Linked DNA regions of Homo sapiens. The protein of the gene in region 1 purifies or fractionates together with the protein of each later gene. This does not show direct contact. Each region holds a gene or a part of one and is shown in the gene's direction. Other genes may lie near its edges.

Region 1 (4,601 bases):
GGTGTACGCTGTCTTTTTAGACATAGTAGTATTGCACGTTTTATAGTATAGTGTAAACATAACTTTTTTTTTTTTTTGAGACGGAGTCTCGCTCTGTCGCCCAGGCTGGAGGGCAGTGGCGCTATCTCGGCTCACTGCAAGCTCACCTTCCGGGTTCACACCATTCTTCTGCCTCAGCCTACCGAGTAGCTGACCCTACAGGCGCCCCTCACCAAGCCCGGCTAATTTTTTTTGTATTTTTAGTAGAGATGGGGTTTCACCATGTTAGCCAGGGTGGTCTCGATCTCCTGACCTCGTGATCCGCCCGCCTCGGCCTCCAAAGTGCTGGGATTACAGGCGTGAGCCACCGCGGCCGGCCAGTGTAAACATAACTTTTACATGCTCTGGGAAATCAAAAAATTCATGTGACTCACTTTATTGCGATATTCACTTCATTATGGTGGTCTAAACCCACAATATCTCTAAGGTATGCCTGCACTAAAATCGAATGATACAGGAAGCTTAGCATGGTCCACGCACAAGGATAGCATGCAAATTTATGAAACACTTCATATATTTAAAAACGAATGTTTTTAATTGTAGTTAATGCTCTGTTTCTCAAACCAGAAACCCCTGGGATATGAGAGGGAAGTTACAGGATAAATGCAGATATATTCAACAAAACATTTACTAATTGCTTTATTATGTACCAGGTACTGTTGCTAGGCTAGAAGGGAGGAAAAAATAGATATGATCCCTAGCCCTGTGAAGTGTGTAGTTCAGTAAGTATAACAGTACAAGAAACAAATCAATGCAAATATATAGTTACATAACTACAATTTGGATTAAGTATTAGGAAGAAGAGGCTGGGTGTGGTGGCTCACGCCTGTAATCCCAGCACTTTGGGAGGCCGAGGCGGGCGGATCACGAGGTCAGGAGATCGAGACCATCCTGGTTAACACGATGAAACCCCGTCTCTACTGAAAATACAAAAATTAGCCGGGTGTGGTGGTGGGCGCGTGTAGTCCCAGCTACTGGGGAGGCTGAGGCAGGAGAATGGCATGAACCCGGAAGGCGGAGCTTGCAGTGAGCCGAGATAGCGCCACTGCACTCCAACCTGGTCGACAGAGTGAGACTCCATCTAAAAAAAAAAAAAAAAAAAAAATGGAAGAAGAAGAACAGGATCCTATCAGGCGACCAAGAAGGAAGATGTACTTTCAGTTAGGTGTCAGAGAATGTCTCTGAGGAACTGACATCATTGGAGGCCTAAAGTGTGAATGAGAGGGCCATCCATGCAGAGTATGTGGTGTGTGCAAGTGTGTAGAACTTATCTGAAAGAGCACACTGTATAAATATAGGCCCTGTGGTGTGAAAGTATTGACCTATTTGGGCAGCTATGATAAGGCCAGTGTAGCTGGCATGGAATAAGCAACAGAGACAGAAACATGCACAGTGAAATTGGAAAGATAGGCACCAAATCATGCCGGAGCTTATAAAGCCAGGATGAAAAATTTAGATTTTGATTTTATAAGCTCAGTGGAAATGATCTGCATTTATAAAATATTTTTTGGCTCCCATATAAATGATTGGAGGAGGCAGAAGGAGAGTCAGGAAGGCTAGGTGCCCTTTGAGAAAGTCTACATGAGAGAAGATGCTGACTTGAATTGGAGTGGTGGCATTAGAGATAGAAATGGACAAATTAAAGATTTATTTTGCCTTGAGGTCAGGAAGGATTTGCAGAGAAAATAACAACTAACTTTGGAAGTATTTGGTGGTTTAAGAGCCGTAGCTAGGGAGTCAGACTGCCCTGGTTAGAATCTGGCTCTGCTGCATACTGGCTACATGACAGGGCAAGCTGCTTCTCTACGCCACTGGTGAAATGGTAAGAGTTAAAGAACCTACCTCACACAGAGTGTTGCAGGCAGAGGGAAAAGGTGAATGTAGAGTAAGACAAAGACAGGTGGGAGGATGGTGAGAAATGGGCTGAAAAGGTGAGTAAGCGAGATCCAAAAATATCTTTTAGACTATGTTGAGTACTTTAGATTTTATCCAGAGGGCAGAGGCCAGTTAAAAGGGAAATATAACATTCGTGATTTAGAAATACTACTTTGGCTGCAATGTGAAAGCTAGATTAATGAAGGGCCTGAGTGAAGATGGGGAGTTCAATTTAAGAAGCTATCATAGGACAAGTAAGAGATGGTAGGTTTTTGTTTGTTTTAATTTTTAGAGACAGGGCTGGGTGCAGTGGCTCACACCTGTAATCCCAGCACTTTGGAAGGCCAAGGCAGGCAGATTGCTTGAGCTTGGGAGTTTGGGACCAGCCTGGGCAACATAATGAAACCCCGTCTCTACAAAAAATACAAAGAATTAGCTGGAGATGGTGGTCAAAAATTTTAGAGACAGAGTCTAACTCTGTTGCTCAGGCTAGATTACAGTGGCACAGTCATAGCTCACTGCAGCCTCAAATTCCTGGGCTCAAGCCGTCCTCTGGCCTCAGCCTCCTGAGTAGCTGGGACTACAGGTGCACACCACCACACCAGCTAATTTTTAAGTTTTTTGTAGAGATGGGAGTCTCATTATGTTGCCCAGGCTGGTCTTGAACTTCCAACCTCAAGCTATCCTCCCACCATGGCCTCCCAAAGTACTGGGATTATAGGCATGAACCATTGTGCTCGGCTGATTGTAGATTTTGTTAATGCAATTTAAAAAAGTAGTTACTATTTATCATTATGTCTCTAGTCTTAGTTTTGCTTTTTTTTTCAAGTGTCATTTCAGCAATTAAGATTACTTTTACTGATGGGTGCAGTGGCTCACGCCTGTAATCCCAGCACTCCAACAAAAGTGAAGTCTCCAACAGTTTTGAATAGGAAACAACAAAATAAAGCACCCAAAAAAGAGACTGGAAAAAGTCTATATAGTACAACTATATAGGAAAAGAAAGTGTCCCCAAACTCACTCAGATTTTGTAAATGCTGTCTCCAAAGAGAGTAAAAAAGACATGTCTATAAAACAAGAACAGATGCTATGAAACAGGAATTATCAGAGAAACAGTGGTTAATAGAAAATGTTATTGCCAAAATTAAGGACAAATTGAGTAAATCTTTCAAAAATATAAGAGAAAAGATAAAAATTATAAGTTCAATCTAGGGTGTCTAGCATCCATCTAAAAAAATTTCAGAAAAAAAACACAGGGGAGGAGATTAACAAATAATAAATTTCCCAGAGCTGAAGGCACTACATACTCAGCATAATTAATGAAAAAAGACCCTCATGAAGACATTAATCACTAGACATTTCAGACTGCTATGGATAAAAAGGAGAAACAGGAAACTTCCAGAGATGAAGGGAAAACCATAAAGTAAAGAGACTTACCAACATCAACATTTTATACTAAAAACCAATGGAATAAGCTTCCAAAGTTCAGTGGAAGTAAATTTCAACCTAGAATTCCATACAAAATCCAGTATAAAATACCAGAAGTGCAAATCATAAATGTACAGCTCACTGAATTTTTGCAAAGTGAATACATCTGTAAAAAGCATATAGATCAATAAGCAGAATATTATCCCTCGGGCATCTTTCCAGCCACTCCCCACAACCCCACCCCACTAAAGGTATTGATATTCTCACCTTTTTTTTTTTTTTTTTTTGAGACCGGGTCTTGCTCTGTCTCCCATGCTGGAGTGCAGTGGTGCAAACTTGGCTCACTGTAGCCTCAGCCTCTTGGGCTCAGGCAGTCCTCCCACCTCAACCTCTTGAGTAGCTGGGACTACAGGGGCGTGCCGCCATGCCTGGCTAATTTTTAAATTTTTTGAGAGATGGGGTCTCATTGTTACCCAGGCTGGTCTTGAACTCCTGAGCTCAAGTGATCCACCCGCCTTGGCCTCCCGAAGTGTTGGGATTACAGGCGTGAGCCATCATGCCTGGCCTCTGATGTTCTTTTAACCGCATAGGTTAAATTTTGCCTGTTTTTGAATTTTTGTTTGGGTTTTTTTTGTTTGTTTTTGAATTTTATACAAATGTAATCATACAATCTATTCTCTTGGGTCTGGCTTTCACTCAACATTAAGTTTGTGCGTTGTTGTGTAATTACTGTTTTTTCATTCTTATCACTAGATAGCATGGTTCTCAAACTTTTTAGTCAGAATCACTTCTTAAAAATAATTGAGGGTCACAAAGAGCTATATGTTTATGTGGGCTGTATAATAGATAATTACCATTTTAGAAATTAAAACAAATTGTTCAAGCACAAGAATATACAAGCACAAATTTCACTGGCCTTCAGAGTGATGACATCACATTATGTAGCCTCTAGAACATCACTGTATACTTGTGAGAGAATGAGTGAAAGTAGAACAAATTACATCTGAATATTATTATGAAAATAGTACATATTTCAAACTCCTTGAAAGGGTCTCCCTGTGAGTCCCTGAATCACACTTTGAGAACTGCTGCTCTACAGTATTCCATTGTGTGAAAACACCACAATTTATTTAGCTATTCTGCTGTTTGTGGACATTTATCTCCACTTTTTACCTGTTGCAAATAGTTTTACTTTGCACATTTTTTTTTTTTTTTTGAGACGGAGTCTTGCTCTGTCGCCCAGGCTGGAGTGCAGTGGC
Region 2 (4,601 bases), on another chromosome or scaffold:
CTGCTGTCTTCTGGTTAATATCCTCACATGGCAGAGAGATAGATTGAGAACACTTATAAGGACACTAATCCTGTTCATGAGGGCTCCACCCTAGGATCTAATCACCTCCCAAAGGCCTGCCTCCTAATACGATCACATTGAGGGTTAGGATGTCAACATTTGAATTTTGGGGGGACACATTTACTCTGACAATACCTAATAAAGTATAATATTAATATCCCCTCTTCCAAAAAATACAAAGAACTTGTCTAGTCGCTTAGTCCTGTCTTTTTTTAATTGCTTGAGGTAGACATTATTATCTTCATTTGTTTAGATGGCATTTAAATTTATGAATATATTTGCAAGTTTCTCTGCTCCTCATTTGTTTTCGTCTCAGACCATTCCTGAAGTACGTTCTTTGAAAAGTCCTCTAGTGTGTGTAGAGCAGCTGGTGGTAAACATAGTGGCTTCAGTCGGTACACACTTGTAACTGATGATTCTCTCAGCACTTGGAAGATAGCATTCTGCAGTTTTGGTTCCATTTTTCCTGTTAAGAGATTTCTATCAGCTAAATGGTGTTCCATGGTAGGAAATATGTCTTTCTCTGTAACTTCCTTTAAACTCTTCAATTTTGATATTCTTTAGTTTCTCATAATATATCTAGGAGGAATTTTTTTTTTAATGTATCCTGCTTGATGTACATGTGTTTTCTTATTCTGTGAAATTCTTAGCTATTTTCTTTTCATATTCCTCTCCTTCATTTTTTCTGTTCTTTTATTTTTTTGAGACGGAGTTTCACTCTTGTTGCCCAGGCTGGAGTGCAGTGGTGTGATCTTGACTCACTGCAACCTCCGCCTCCTGGGCTCAAGTGATTCTCCTGCCTCAGCCTTCCAAGTAGCTGGGATTACAGGCGTGCTCCACCATGCCCAGCTAATTTTGTATTTTTAGTAGAGACAGGATTTCGCCATGTTGGCCAGTCTGACTTTGAACTCCTGACCTCGAGTGATCCACCCCCTTCAGCCTCCCAAAGTGCTGGGATTGCAGGCGTGAGCCACCATGCCCGGCCATTTTTTTTTTTTTATTCCTTTAGAGTTCCAATTAGATGCATGTTATAGACTGAATGTTTTTCTTCCCAAAAGTTACATGTTGAAATCATAACTCCCAATATGATGACATTAGGAGGTGGGGTCTTTGGGTGGTTATTAGGTCACAAGGGTGCAGCCCTCATGAATGGAATTTATTCAAGAGACACCAGAGAGCTCTTTCCTCTTTGTGCCATGGGAGCACTGAAGGAGAAGTCAGTAGCGTGTAATGTGGAGAGGCCCTCACCAGAACCCAACCATGATGGTACCCTCATCTCAAACTTCCAGCCTCCAGAACTGTGAGAAATAAATATCTGTTGTTAACAAGTCACCCAGTCTGTAGTACTTTGTTACAGCAACTAAGACAAGGCATCGTTAGGAGTTCTCATTCTTTCCTTTAGAACTCTAATATATCTGAGCTATGCTCTATCTCCTTGTATCTGTGCCGTGTACTGGGTAATATCTTCTGCTCTGTCTTTGAGTTCATTAAACCTCCTTTCATCTGAATCTCTGTTTATCCATTGAGGGGCCCTCCAGCCCCCAGCAATCCTGATTTTTATTATTAAAAGATCTATTTGGTTATTTTAGAAAATTGTCTACTTATTTTTGATGCTTACTGTTACTTGCTTATTTTTGTGACTCTGTCTTTATGTTTTATTCATAGTTATTGTAAATTCCCTATTTGCTGATTTCAATGTCTGAAGTCTTGATGGGTGGCTTTGGTTTATGGTAGATTATTTTCTTGTGTGTTGAATCTTTGGCTAAACAATTATTTGTTCTAAATTAGTGGAAAACCTGTTAGCCTCTTTTGAGAATGCTTTGCTCTGAAAAGGATTTGCATTTTATTTTACCACAGGCCTGAGGCTGCATTAAGTCTCCTTACAGGAGCCCTCGCTCCCAAGAATGTTGTGTTTAGTCCTCCCGCTTGCCGTCCCCTCCAGCAGGCCTCCTCTCCCAGCCCCACCAGCGTGTCCTCATAGTCCACCACCTTCATTTTTTTCATGTCGGTATTCACAGTTCAGCTCAGGGCTTTGGGGTTGCTTTACTTTGTCCCTTGGAGATTTTTTGTATGTTCTGTGGGCCCAGCAATGCAGCACACACACACACACACACACACACACACACACACACACACACACACACTCACACACATACACCATTTAGATCTTTAGTAGGAGGTCCCTTCAGAGTGTCCAGCCAACCGTTATCCTGGAAATAGAGGTTTCAAAGCATTTTTAAAATGAAAAAGACAAAGAAATGGAGGGAGGAAGGAAAGAGGAAAAGTAATACCATTATAATACTGAGCATTTGGATGATGGGAATAAAGAAGGAAAAAACTTTTAGATGATGGTCCTACCGCCCCAACACAGTACCTGTAAGATCAGAGCCAATTAATGAAGAGAGGGGCAAACATAAAAGAGGGAAAAGCTAAGACATTTCTATCTCATCATCACCTAATTCCCATTAGGCAAGCATTCTTTTGGAAAATAATTGAATACCTGAGCCTTTAAAGACTTAAAACTTATTTTTACTTGCTAATAACTCCCTGAAAAGTTACGTGGAAGAGTACTTAAAAAATCTTTCATTAAAATTTAGATAAATGCAGCTTATATTTTCTACATGTGATTTATACATCTCTGATATGTAGTTTTGAATGTTATTGTTCCTCTTCTTAATATATCACAGGACAAGGAGTAGATGAACCTCTTTCAGAAACTGGATTTAAACAAGCAGCAGCTGCTGGTATATTTCTGAATAATGTGAAGTTTACTCATGCTTTCTCCAGTGATCTCATGAGGACAAAGCAGGTACATTTATTTATTTATTTATTTTGAGACAGAGCGTCACTCTATGCCCAGGCTGGAGTGCAGTGGTGCAGTCTCTGTTCACTGCAACCTCCATCTCCCGGGTTCAAGTGATTCTGATGCCTCAGCCTCCCAATAGCTGGGATTACAGGTGTGTGCCACCACACCTAGCTAATTTTTGTATTTTTAGTAGAGATGGGGTTTTGCCATGTTGCTGGTCTCAAACCCCTAACCTCAGGTGATCCACTTGCCTCAGCCTCCCAAAGTGCTGGGATTACAGGCGTGAGCCACCACGCCCAGCAACAGGTGAGTTTAGAGTCAAGGTCTAGGCTGATGTGCCAAAAGTCTCAACAATTGTATAATCTTGAAAAATCTGCTACCAGAGTCTGTAGGGAATTAAATCCCAAACAGACATGACCTTCCTCAACAGAACTTATTTATTTTAATTTTATTTTGTACTTTTTAAAAAAAATAATTTTTAAATTAGAGTAGCCTAGAAAAAAAAGTCCAGCAAGAATATAAATAAGCTATTATGAGAGAGAGCAGGGAAAATGACAGGAGAAATTAATCCACTGTGACATCAGGTATTAGGATTACCAGATAGAGTAAGAAACCACTATGTCACTGTAAAGAAATAAAAGACTTGTTAGAAATATCTTCAGGGAACAGATTACTATAAAAATGAAAAACCAGTTGGGCATGGTGGCTCATGCCTGTGATCCCTGCACTTTGGGAGGCCGAGGCAGGTGGATCACTTGAGGTCAGGAGTTCAAGACCAGCCTGGCCAACATGGTGAAACCCTATCTCCACTACAAATACAAAAATTAGCCAGGTGTGGTGGCGTGCACCTTAATCCCAGCTACTTGGGAGGCTGAGGCAGGAGAATCGCTTGAACACAGGAGGCAGAGGTTGCAGTGAGCCAAGATCGTGCCGTTGCATGGTTGGGCTACAGAGCAAGACTCTTGTCTCGAAAATAAAAAAAAAGTAAAATTAAAAACGAACCCAGTCTACTTCTAAAAACTCCATGGAAGGAGAGTTTTGTGACCAACTGTGAGTGAGGTATTGTTGGAATTTCATCTCCCCTATAAACAATTAGAAAATGTGGCAAAATATGTGAAACCACTGTTTTCAGATATTAGACTTTGGGCACTGTGGGCCTATGATGCCTGAATGAAGTAGAACAAAGAAGGTGAGCCCTAGGGAGTGTCCTGGTTTTCTGGCTGAAGCAATTTCCAGACTCTGGTAGGGGAAGCCAAGTAGTGCTTAGAGGTCTCCGTGAGTTAAGGAGACAAAACTTGGAATTTGGGGAGGTTAATTTTTACATAACTTAAATTTGTGGGGCAGAGTAATGGAAGAAAGACGTGGATAGACAAAGAACTCTAGAAATATGTACAAGAATTTCTTTAAATTGAAACATTTCTTGAAACAAATGATAATGGAAACACAATATACCAAAACCTGTGGGATACAGCAAAAATATTAGGGAAATTTTAGCTGTAAGTACCTACATCAAAAAAAGAAGAAAAACTCCAAATAAACATCTAACAATGCATCTTAAAGAACAAGAAAAGCCACTTTGGGAGGCCGAGATGGGAGGATTGCCTGAGCTCAGGAGTTCAAGACCAGCCTGGGCAATACGGTGAAACACCGTCTCCACTGAAATAACAAATCTGCCTGGCGTGGTGGCAGGCACCTGTAATCCCAGCTACTTAGCAGGCTGAGGCATGAGAATTGC
Region 3 (4,601 bases), on another chromosome or scaffold:
TACTTTCTCAATATGCTTTCATTTATTAAGCACTTGCTATGTGTAAGGTCCTAGGAACCCCAGAGACATGACACCATGTTCCATGCTCTACATAGCTGTGGTGGCAGGACATGCAAAATAACCTACATACACTATGAAATAAGTAGTAATACACTGGGATTCCATATCCTATGGAGGTAGAGAAGCAATTAAAGTACCGAGCAAAGTATTGAAGAAAACCTAGACACTACCAGAGTATAAGAGTCAGGATGGCATCTCTCTAACCATCACTATTTTCATCTGTCAGACAAGGCCAAGGATTGTGAGTGTGGATAAGAGTGGAAGAAGAAAATAGATCTTTTAACCTCTATTCCATGCTTAAGATTCTATAGTTCTGACCCCACTGGAAATCCAGTGGTTGAAAACTTAATGGCAGTTTATAGAGAAGAAAACTTCTCCTAACAGAAGAGATGAAACTTCCTCTAGGGCAGAAAGCAAGTGTAGGATATCAGTTAGTAGAGAAGAGGGCTTTCTTGCATGGAACATTACATGTGGTATGTTGAGGGGCTAGTGAATTTTGTTGATTGGTGTGGATTTATGGGGATGAAAAATATGATTTCAGAGTAACATATGATACAGATTAAGAAGTCCTGCATTTAAGAAATTTGACTTAGATTTTATTAGTGGAGTAGTGAAAAGCCATGGATATATTTAGGATGTTGCTGAAGTAGAACAAAAAGTTAGCCCATCAAAAATGCATGGCGTAGCTGAGAAAACATTACTGGAGTCTGACCAGCTGAATTTGATTCCTAATTCTGCCACTTGCTAGCCATGCACCCCAGTTCAAGCTACCTAACTTCTGAGCCTCTACTTTCTCATATTTGGTGGAGATGTTCACATTCCTCTTAAGATGGAATGAGAGTTCTTGTGGGAGTTAAATGACATACTGAATATTAAATCCCTAGCCACATAACTGTCACAAAGTGTAAATTCAACAAATGGGTTTCTTCCTTCCCTAGTTTCTTCTCTTTCTATTACTGGAGAATCTCTTGGCAAAACTAATTACTTTGTACAAAAAGTAAGAACAAAGGTTAGATTACTCTGAAGGGCAGTTGGTTCGTTTCTGGCCTGGTTATCTAACAACACATTTCACTGAGAACATTAAAGATAAAATAATCAAAAGGAATGCAAGACTAAAGTAGACCAAACATGTCAATTTCGTTGAACATAATTTGGTCAGACTTTAAGGTGAAGGCATAAAGAAATCAAATAAGAGAAGGACTGAAAACAGGAATCAACCATCAGTAATTTCCTAAAAATCTAGAACATGAGTATAGATAATTTCTTTCAAATACAAAGGAAAAAGTTGTGGGTTTTTTTTTTTTTACTTCAAAAATTCAACTAGAGAATGCTACAGTTAAAGTGTACCTGAAACCAAATTTGGTGAATTTAATAACCAAGTCATTTGCTGCAAGATGTTCCAAGAGTTACAAGTTATTACTCAGGCGATAACCTCAAATGACTCCCAAGAGTTAAATTATAAATTTTCCTCAACAATAGAGAGAATTGATCAGTTGAGAACAGAGTCCTCAAAGAGCGAAAAATGGTGTTATGCAGACCCCAGTGTGTTTGAAGGTGATACAGAGTATGCAAATCTTGATTTTGCATCTCTGATCATAGTGTTGGCTCTGGGATTAGTTAAAAGACAGAAATTCCTCCCTTTGTGTAACTGTACTGTTTCACTTAGGTTAACGTAGGTCCTTTAAGACTTTGCTAGTATGCCATTTTAAACTTGATTGGCTCTTAGCCCCTCCCACCATATTTTTTTCCTCCTGTCCCATAGAAAAGGGAGCAAGGAAGTGTAAACTAATGGTCGTATAGTGAGAACACAAATGAATTTTTTTTCTTGATATTTACCAAGTGTGTTCAGCAAACAGTTCTTCTGTGCCTACTTAATTAGTGCCAGTCTTAATCCTGGGTACAGAGAGGAAATCAGATGTAATGTGGTACTAGTGCCTTTTTTTTTTTTACAGTGTGGACCCTGGACAAGAAGCATAGGTTGATATCACTTGCAAGTTTATTACCAATGCCAACTCAGGCTTCACTCGAGACCTGCTAATTCAGAATCAGTATTTGAATAAGGTCCCAGGTGATTTGTACATTGAAGATTTTAGAAGTATACAAACAGTAACTCACAGACATAGTAAGATGAAGAGAAATCCAAACAGATGTTTGGGGCTATGTCGTAGATATAGTATAGGCATAGGAATCCTAAGGAGCAGGACATATTTCAGCCTGAATATGACAAAAATCCCACTTATTACTCTCCTGAGAGCTTCAAGTGCCTATATGACCCAAAATACAATGGAAAGCCTATTGGCGAAAGTCATGGGTTGATTGATCTAACCCTGAGATAAAATACTTATTAAAATATTATCTTTTAATGGGTTTCAGACAACTGAGGCTAAGCCCTTTAATTACTTTAAGGACCATGCTCACTGAAGCTTTTAAAAGGTATTTTCAAAAGCTTAATTGCCCAAGAAAATAATCAGTGTAAGAGTATTAGGTTACCCAGCAGAAAATGATGTCTTCTACATACCTGTCTACATCACAAGAAGGGAGGGGTAAAAAAGGATCAAGATCTTATTCTTCTGTAAGCCTACATGTGCATGAGTGTTATGATTTTGAGACTACTCTTATATACATGTAATTTGATCCTCTTATCAAAACAATATAGAGAATAACTGAGCCCAATCTTTTTAGTCATCTCTTCAACAAGGGGTAAATCAGTCAGTTTCTAAAACTGGTGGGAGGTCTCCATAAACCTGATAACAAGATCCCAAAATCCAAACTGATTGACTGAGTTAATTCCTGATCATTTGGGTTGAACTTAAGAGTTATACAAGAAAATGGTAGGGGACGAGGAGGTTGTATAAAGGGGAAAAAACAACAACTGCAAAAAGCCCAAGAGCCTGAATTTAGACCAATCTATCATCTTCCTCCTCTTAAAAAGAAAACAATTTAAAAGTTTTAAATAAAAAATAAAGGTCATGTTTTTGTTTTGCCAAGAATCAAAAGATTTTGCTGAAACTACTGCTGCAAAATATTTTGTTTCAAGCCATCTTAGGGCACCTCAGACTAAAAATGAAACCATGATCAATTTCTATCCCCTTACCACTTCTATGACAATCACACATGGTAAATACAAGCTCTGCTCTAGTACTACAATAAAACTGTAGAACTAGAGTAGACCTTGTAGTGATCATATATTACTACTTCTCCTCTTGTCCTATGTCCATCTTATTTCAATCTAAACTAGAAATGACAAAATTCTTGTTGGGTCGAATTGTCTTTTGAGTAGTTTTAGAGCTTTTTGTTTTCATTTCTCCAAGATGATCTTGTTGCATCTGCAGTTCGAGTTTTTAAAATCAAGTAGAATAATGTCAAAAGGGGACAATTTATGTGAGAAATCAACTGACAGTACATGATTATTTAAAATGAAAGTTTTAAAGAAAATTTTCCCCACAAGGGAATCTGTGTAAGACCAGAAATCTTATGATTGGCTAGCTACTATATAAAATGCTCTGTACACAAGAAATATTTTCTATTGTCCCTAGCCAGTAAAACAAGAACAAACTCGTACCAAACATGAACTACAGTATATTTATACTGCTGTGCTAAATGGTGTTTGTGGGTATGTTTTTCTTCTCTCTAGGGGAGAGTACGGTTTCCATGAATATACAGAGGTCAAAACAGTCACAGTGAAAATCTCTCAGAAGAACTCATAAAGAAAATACAAGAGTGGAGAGAAGCTCTTCAATAGCTAAGCATCTCCTTACAGTCACTAATATAGTAGATTTTAAAGACAAAATTTTTCTTTTCTTGATTTTTTTAAACATAAGCTAAATCATATTAGTATTAATACTACCCATAGAAAACTTGACATGTAGCTTCTTCTGAAAGAATTATTTGCCTTCTGAAATGTGACCCCCAAGTCCTATCCTAAATAAAAAAAGACAAATTCGGATGTATGATCTCTCTAGCTTTGTCATAGTTATGTGATTTTCCTTTGTAGCTACTTTTGCAGGATAATAATTTTATAGAAAAGGAACAGTTGCATTTAGCTTCTTTCCCTTAGTGACTCTTGAAGTACTTAACATACACGTTAACTGCAGAGTAAATTGCTCTGTTCCCAGTAGTTATAAAGTCCTTGGACTGTTTTGAAAAGTTTCCTAGGATGTCATGTCTGCTTGTCAAAAGAAATAATCCCTGTAATATTTAGCTGTAAACTGAATATAAAGCTTAATAAAAACAACCTTGCATGATTCTTGTTACTTTTGAATTTTTTTAAGTACAAGTTTTGGTTACAGTGATTTCTTCTTGTCACTTAAAAACAGTGTTAAACTGAGCATAAAGGTACATTTAAAAGTAAAAGTCTAATCCACCTATTCTCAAATAGGTAAAGAAACATGCTGTATTTTCCAAAAGAATTCTCAAAATCAGTGGATTTTATCTGAAATAGATGGCCTCAGTCCTTCAGTAAGCAATTATTGAGTTCCTACAAAGTTTTGGGTATGTGTTAAGTGTTGTAGAAAAGAGGTGAATAATGAATGGTCCATTAT
Region 4 (5,364 bases), on another chromosome or scaffold:
ATGCAAATAATCTTTTCTTGAAACTATGAAATCACATGGCTAAATGTAATTGTCAAGGCAGCAGTTTTCTAGAATTTAAGAAGTAACTGTAGAGAAAATGCTCAACAATGTCTTTGTAGTCAGTTTTCCCTCATTCTTATTCCTCTCAATTCCAAAATAATGACTGGCACAATACAGCTTTCAAATATGTGAAAGAAGAAGATATCCTCTTAAACCCCTGGACAGACAGCACTGGTATGACCCTATGTAGGTCACATGATAATACCCAAGTATAGAGAAGCAAGGAATGCTATGAACCCAGTTTTAAGCCCTTATAAAACTGTTGTCCAGAAACTAAGACAAAAGTCTCCTATTTAAAACTATTTTAATGTTTCATCACTATTGTATTATAAAATGGGATTAAGATTCTTACCTGATTTTTTTTTTATTGAGACAGAGTCTCACTCTGTCACCCAGGCTGGAGTGCAGTGGCATGATCTTGGCTTACTGAAACCTCTGCCTCCCAGGTTCAAGTGCTTCTCCTGCCTCAGCCTCCCCAGTAGCTGGGACTACAGGCGCGCGGCCGTGATGCCCCGCTAATTTTTGTATTTTTAGTAGAGACGAGGTTTTGCCATGTTGCCCAGGCTGGTCCCGAACAACTGACTTTCAAGTGATCCGCCCGCCTCGGCGTTCCAAAGTGCTGGGATTCAGGCGCGAATCACCACCCTGCCAGGCCTCATTTCGTTTTTAGTACAGTATTATATTCAAATTTAAAACCAGAGATTTTCAAAGATGCCACTTAACTTTAAAAGATAAAAAGTACTCCAAAGCAGGTTGGGCGCAGTGACTCACGCCTGTAATCCCAGCACTTTGGGAGGCCGAGGCGGGAGGATAACTTGAGGTCAGGAGTTCGAGACCAGCCTGGCCAACATGGGAGAAACCCCGTGTCTACTAAAAATACAAAAATTAGCCGGGCGTGGTGGCGCAGGCCTGTAATTCTAGTTACTCCAGAGGCTGAGGCAGGAGAATCGCTTGAACCCAGAAGGCGGAGGTTGCAGTGAGCTGAGATCGTGCCATTGCACTCCAGCCTGGGTGACAAGAGCTAGACTCCGTCTCAAAAAAAAGAAGTTCCTATAATTTCTGAAAGAAGCAAAGAAAGTTTCCATACAGAATTAAGAGAAAAATGTTAAGACCCAGACTTGGGGTTGGATGAAATAGCATGAGGCAACAGAACACAGGAGTTAAGAGCTTCCGTGTGATTCCCAGCTCAACCTGGAGCAAATGACTTATTTCTCAGAGCCTCAGTTTGCTTACCTGTAAAGTAGGAATAATGATAATACGTACCTCCTAGCTCATCAAATTGTTCCAAAAATTAAATACAACAAAAGGCCTAACAAATTGCCTCATAAGGGCTCAATCAATCGTATTATTGCAACCATTTCGCTTGTATTTGAGTGTGAAGCGCCTAGAAAACCACAGGACCCCTACGGCGAGCCGGGAATTTTTAGATATTTTCCTCCGAGTCAACGCTCAGTGAAATCAGTTCAATCAGTGGCCCGACACCGTGCGGCTGACACAGCTTATCCCCCGACCCTGAGATCAGGGGTCCCCGGAGCCCAAGGTCGCTTCCAAAGCTCAGCGAGGCGGAGGTGCGGCCCGGGCTGGTCTGGTTCGGCCACCGTTGTTATGGCAACCGCCAATAGGTTGGCTTCATCTCTAACTGAAAGTCTGCACAGGAGCGGCCGATCGAAGGGCCCCGAGGTGGGCAGCACAGGCTCCTCGACGACTTCCTAGGTCGCAATCTCCAGGAAAACGACCACAGGGTCAGCGGAGCTAGCCGCCGAGCCCCGCTCCCCGGGCCCTTCCGGCGGCTGCGCCCTTTCACCCCGGACGTGGGCGGGAGAGGAAGCGGCTGGTGATGCTGGAACAAACATGGCCGCTCTGGCGCCCGTCGGCTCCCCCGCCTCCCGCGGTCCTAGGCTGGCCGCGGGCCTCCGGCTGCTCCCAATGCTGGGTTTGCTGCAGTTGCTGGCCGAGCCTGGCCTGGGCCGCGTCCATCACCTGGCACTCAAGGTAAAGCTTGGCAAGGCCGGGCCGGGGGGCGGAGGCCGAGGCCACTCCCCGGGTTTTAGGGCAACTTTGGCCCATTGGGGACCTCTGAGCCACTGGACCACCTCTTTGCCCCTGGCTGCGGCCTTTCACTGACAGGTGGCGGGGTCTGTGGGGAAGGCGGGTCTGGGCGGCGCTGGGGTCTTCGGGCTGACCGGCACGGGGCGGGAAGACTCGAGCTGAGGGAGGGGAAGGGGCTGAACTGTGGCGTTGCCCCCACGGACTCGGGAGGCTGCTCTTAAATCCCTGCTGGCTTCCCTGAATTCCTCACTCAGGGCAGCCCGATCGCCTTTCTTCTTTCTCCCCTCCAGCTTTTATGCTGGCTTTCCTTGTCCGCGGTCTCCGCTCTTCTGTGCCCTTGTACTGTACCGGCGGTTTGAAGGTACTTGGAACCTTAGCCTCAGTTTCCCATTTCGGTTTAGGGCGCTCTCTGGAGCGAGACTCTAGAGAAGGAATTTCAAATCTTGCTTAAAACACGTGACTGAGAATGTAAAGCCAGCATTAAGGTGTGTCTCTAATCAAAGGGCCTGCTTTTTCTTCCTCTATCCAGCCATTGTCTAGGGAAGAGAGATTTTTGATAAACCTAGAATGATACTCTGGATCTTGCTTTGTAACTAGCAGAGAAAAGACCTCTAAGGCTGAAACGCACCCTAAGGTGGTTCAGCAGTTTACTATATCTGGGAAATTGTCCAGGTGCTGTGGCTCATGCCTGTAATCCCAACACTGGGAGGCCTATGCAGGAGGATTGTTTGAGCCCAGGAGTTCGAGACCAGCCTAGTCAACGTGCTAAGGACCCCCTCCCCAAACCTGTCTCTACAAAAAATTAAAAATTAACCAGGTGTGGTGGCAAACGCCTGCAGCTTCTGGGGAGGCTGAGGCTGGAGGATCACTTGAGCCTAGGAGGTTGAGACTGCAGTGAGCCGTGATTACTCATTGCATTCCAGCCTGAGGAACAGAGCAAGACCCTTTCTCAAAACATATAAACAAAATTAGAGACATAGAAAAGTAAATTGTTATGACCCAAACTCTTGTACATTATTTTCATACCATACAGTCTTCTAAGAAGTGGAACTGTAGGCGGGGCGCGGTGGCTCACGCCTGTAATCCTAGCACTTTGGGAGGCCGAGGCAGGCAGATCACGAGGTGAGGAGATCGAGACCATCCTGGCTAGCACGGTGAAACCCTATCTCTACTAAAAATAAAAAAAAAATTAGCCAGGCGTGGTGGCAGGCGCCTGCAGTCCCAGCTACTCGGGAGGCTAAGGCAGGAGAATGGCGTGAACCTGGGAGGCGCTTGTAGTCCCAGCTACTCGGGAGACTGAGGCAGGAGAATGGCGTGAACCCGGGAGGCGGAGCTTGCAGTGAGCCAAGATCCCGCCACTGCACTCCAGCCTGGGCAACAGCGCGAGACTCCGTCTCAAAAAAAAAAAAAAAAAGAAGTGGAACTGTAGAAAGTTTGTCTTGTAAAAACACATTGTTTTAGCAAACTATGAAGCATTGTATTTTGTTAATGTAGAATTTAAAGAATACAGAATGAAATTAAAAGCCTGGCTTGACTGGGCACGGTGGCTCACACCTATAATCCTAGCACTTTGGGAGGCCGAGGTGGGCGGATCACCTGAGGTCAGGAGTTCGAGACCAGCCTGGCCAACATGGCAAAACCCCTCTCTACTAAAAATACAAATATTAGACGGGCATGGTGGCACATGCCTGTAGTCCCAGCTACTTGGGAGGCTGAGACAGGATAATTGCTTGAACCCGGGAGGCTGAGATTGCAGTGAGCAGAGATCATTGTGCCACTGCACTCCAGTCGGGGCGAAAGAACTATACTCTGTCTCAAATAAATAAATAAATAAATAAATAAATGCAAGCCTGACTGGATCCATACAACCTTACTTTTTGGTAACAACTTTTGTTGTTTGTAGGTAAAAATTATCCTGATTAAAATGGTTCAATCACAGGGGTGGGGGTGGGGCAAGTGAATTTTGACTCTTTGAGAATCTGTTGAGAGCTATAGAACCTCTCTCCAGAAAAGTGCATGTAGAAATGTAGACAAAACTTGGCCGGGCACGGTGGCTCACGCCTGTAATCCCAGCACTTTCAGAGGCTGAGGTGGGTGGATCACTTGAGGTCAGGAGTTTGAGACCAGCCTGGCCAACATTGTGAAATCACATCTCTACTAAAAATACAAAAATTAGCCAGGCGTGGTGGCAGGTACCTGTAATCCCAGCTACTCGGGGCTGAGGCAGGAGAATCGCTTGGACCCAGGAGTAGGAAGTTGCAGTGAGCCAAGATTGAGCCCCTGTACTCCAGCCTGGGCGACAGAGCAAGACTCCGTCTCAAAATAAATAAATAAATAAAATAAAATAAACATCCGAAGTCAGGGGTGTCCAATCTTTTGGCTTCCCAGGGCCACATTGGAAGATGAAAAGTTGTTTTGGGTCACACCTAAAATAGACTAACAGTAACCATAGCTGATAAGCTTTAAAAAATTGCAAAAAAATCTCATAATGTTTTAAGAAAGTTCACAAATTTGGCTGGGCGCAGTGGCTCACGCCTGTAATCCCAGCACTTTGGGAGGCCGAGATGGGCGGATCACAGGGTCAGGAGATTGAGACCATCCTGGCTAACAAGGTGAAACCCCGTCTCTACTAAAAATACAAAAAATTAGCCAGGCGTGGTGGCAGGTGCCGGTGGTCTCAGCTACTCGGGAGGCTGAGGCAGGAGAATGGCATGAACCCGGGAGTCGGAGCTTGCAGTGAGCCAAGATCACGCCATTGCATTCCAGCCTGGGTGACAGAGCGAGACTCCTTCTCAAAAAAAAAAAAAAAAAAAAAAAAAAAGAAAGTTCACAAATTTGTGTTGGGCCGCATTCAAAGCCATCCTGGGCCGCATGCATCCTGGACAAGCTTGTTCTGAGTTCTTGCCCAAGGAAATGGAAATCATTTGAAGAGAGCCTGTCAGAGCAGCAACTTTAGATTGTCTGTTTTGCTTGAGACTGAGTGAAATAGGGTACTTGATCAGATTAGAGACCCATAATGGCAAGGATAACATGAAGAGGTCACTGAGTACCAGGAGTATGCGTTGATCTCTTAAAACCTGGCTGCGCCTGGTAGCTCACACCTGTAATCTCAGCACTTAGGGAAGCTCGTTTGAGGTCAAGAGTTGGAGGCTGCGGTGAGCTATGATGGCGACACTACACTCTAGCCTGGGCGACAGAGCAAGACCCCATCTCAACAACAGCAACAAAAATTAGCCAGATGTGGTGGTGCATACC

The links. Proteins that work in one complex are often made in the same cells at the same time.
Region 2: the proteins of ALG8 (region 1) and TIGAR purify together in Homo sapiens (affinity purification with mass spectrometry; one large-scale study listed by BioGRID and IntAct). This does not show direct contact.
Region 3: the proteins of ALG8 (region 1) and ALDH1A1 purify together in Homo sapiens (affinity purification with mass spectrometry; one large-scale study listed by BioGRID and IntAct). This does not show direct contact.
Region 4: the proteins of ALG8 (region 1) and GPR107 purify together in Homo sapiens (co-immunoprecipitation; one large-scale study listed by IntAct). This does not show direct contact.

Annotation. Positions count from the first base shown.
Region 1 is NC_000011.10:78,129,377-78,133,977, reverse strand, and holds part of ALG8 (dolichyl pyrophosphate Glc1Man9GlcNAc2 alpha-1,3-glucosyltransferase), read left to right. Parts: intron 1-4,601.
Region 2 is NC_000012.12:4,334,292-4,338,892, forward strand, and holds part of TIGAR (fructose-2,6-bisphosphatase TIGAR), read left to right. Parts: intron 1-2,747; coding exon 2,748-2,869; intron 2,870-4,601.
Region 3 is NC_000009.12:72,900,374-72,904,974, reverse strand, and holds the end of ALDH1A1 (aldehyde dehydrogenase 1A1), read left to right. Parts: intron 1-3,694; coding exon 3,695-3,767; 3' UTR 3,768-4,304; downstream 4,305-4,601. UniProt on the Homo sapiens protein: Cytosolic dehydrogenase that catalyzes the irreversible oxidation of a wide range of aldehydes to their corresponding carboxylic acid.
Region 4 is NC_000009.12:130,052,022-130,057,385, forward strand, and holds the start of GPR107 (protein GPR107 isoform 3 precursor), read left to right. Parts: upstream 1-1,884; 5' UTR 1,885-1,911; coding exon 1,912-2,052; intron 2,053-5,364. UniProt on the Homo sapiens protein: Has been proposed to act as a receptor for neuronostatin, a peptide derived from the somatostatin/SST precursor.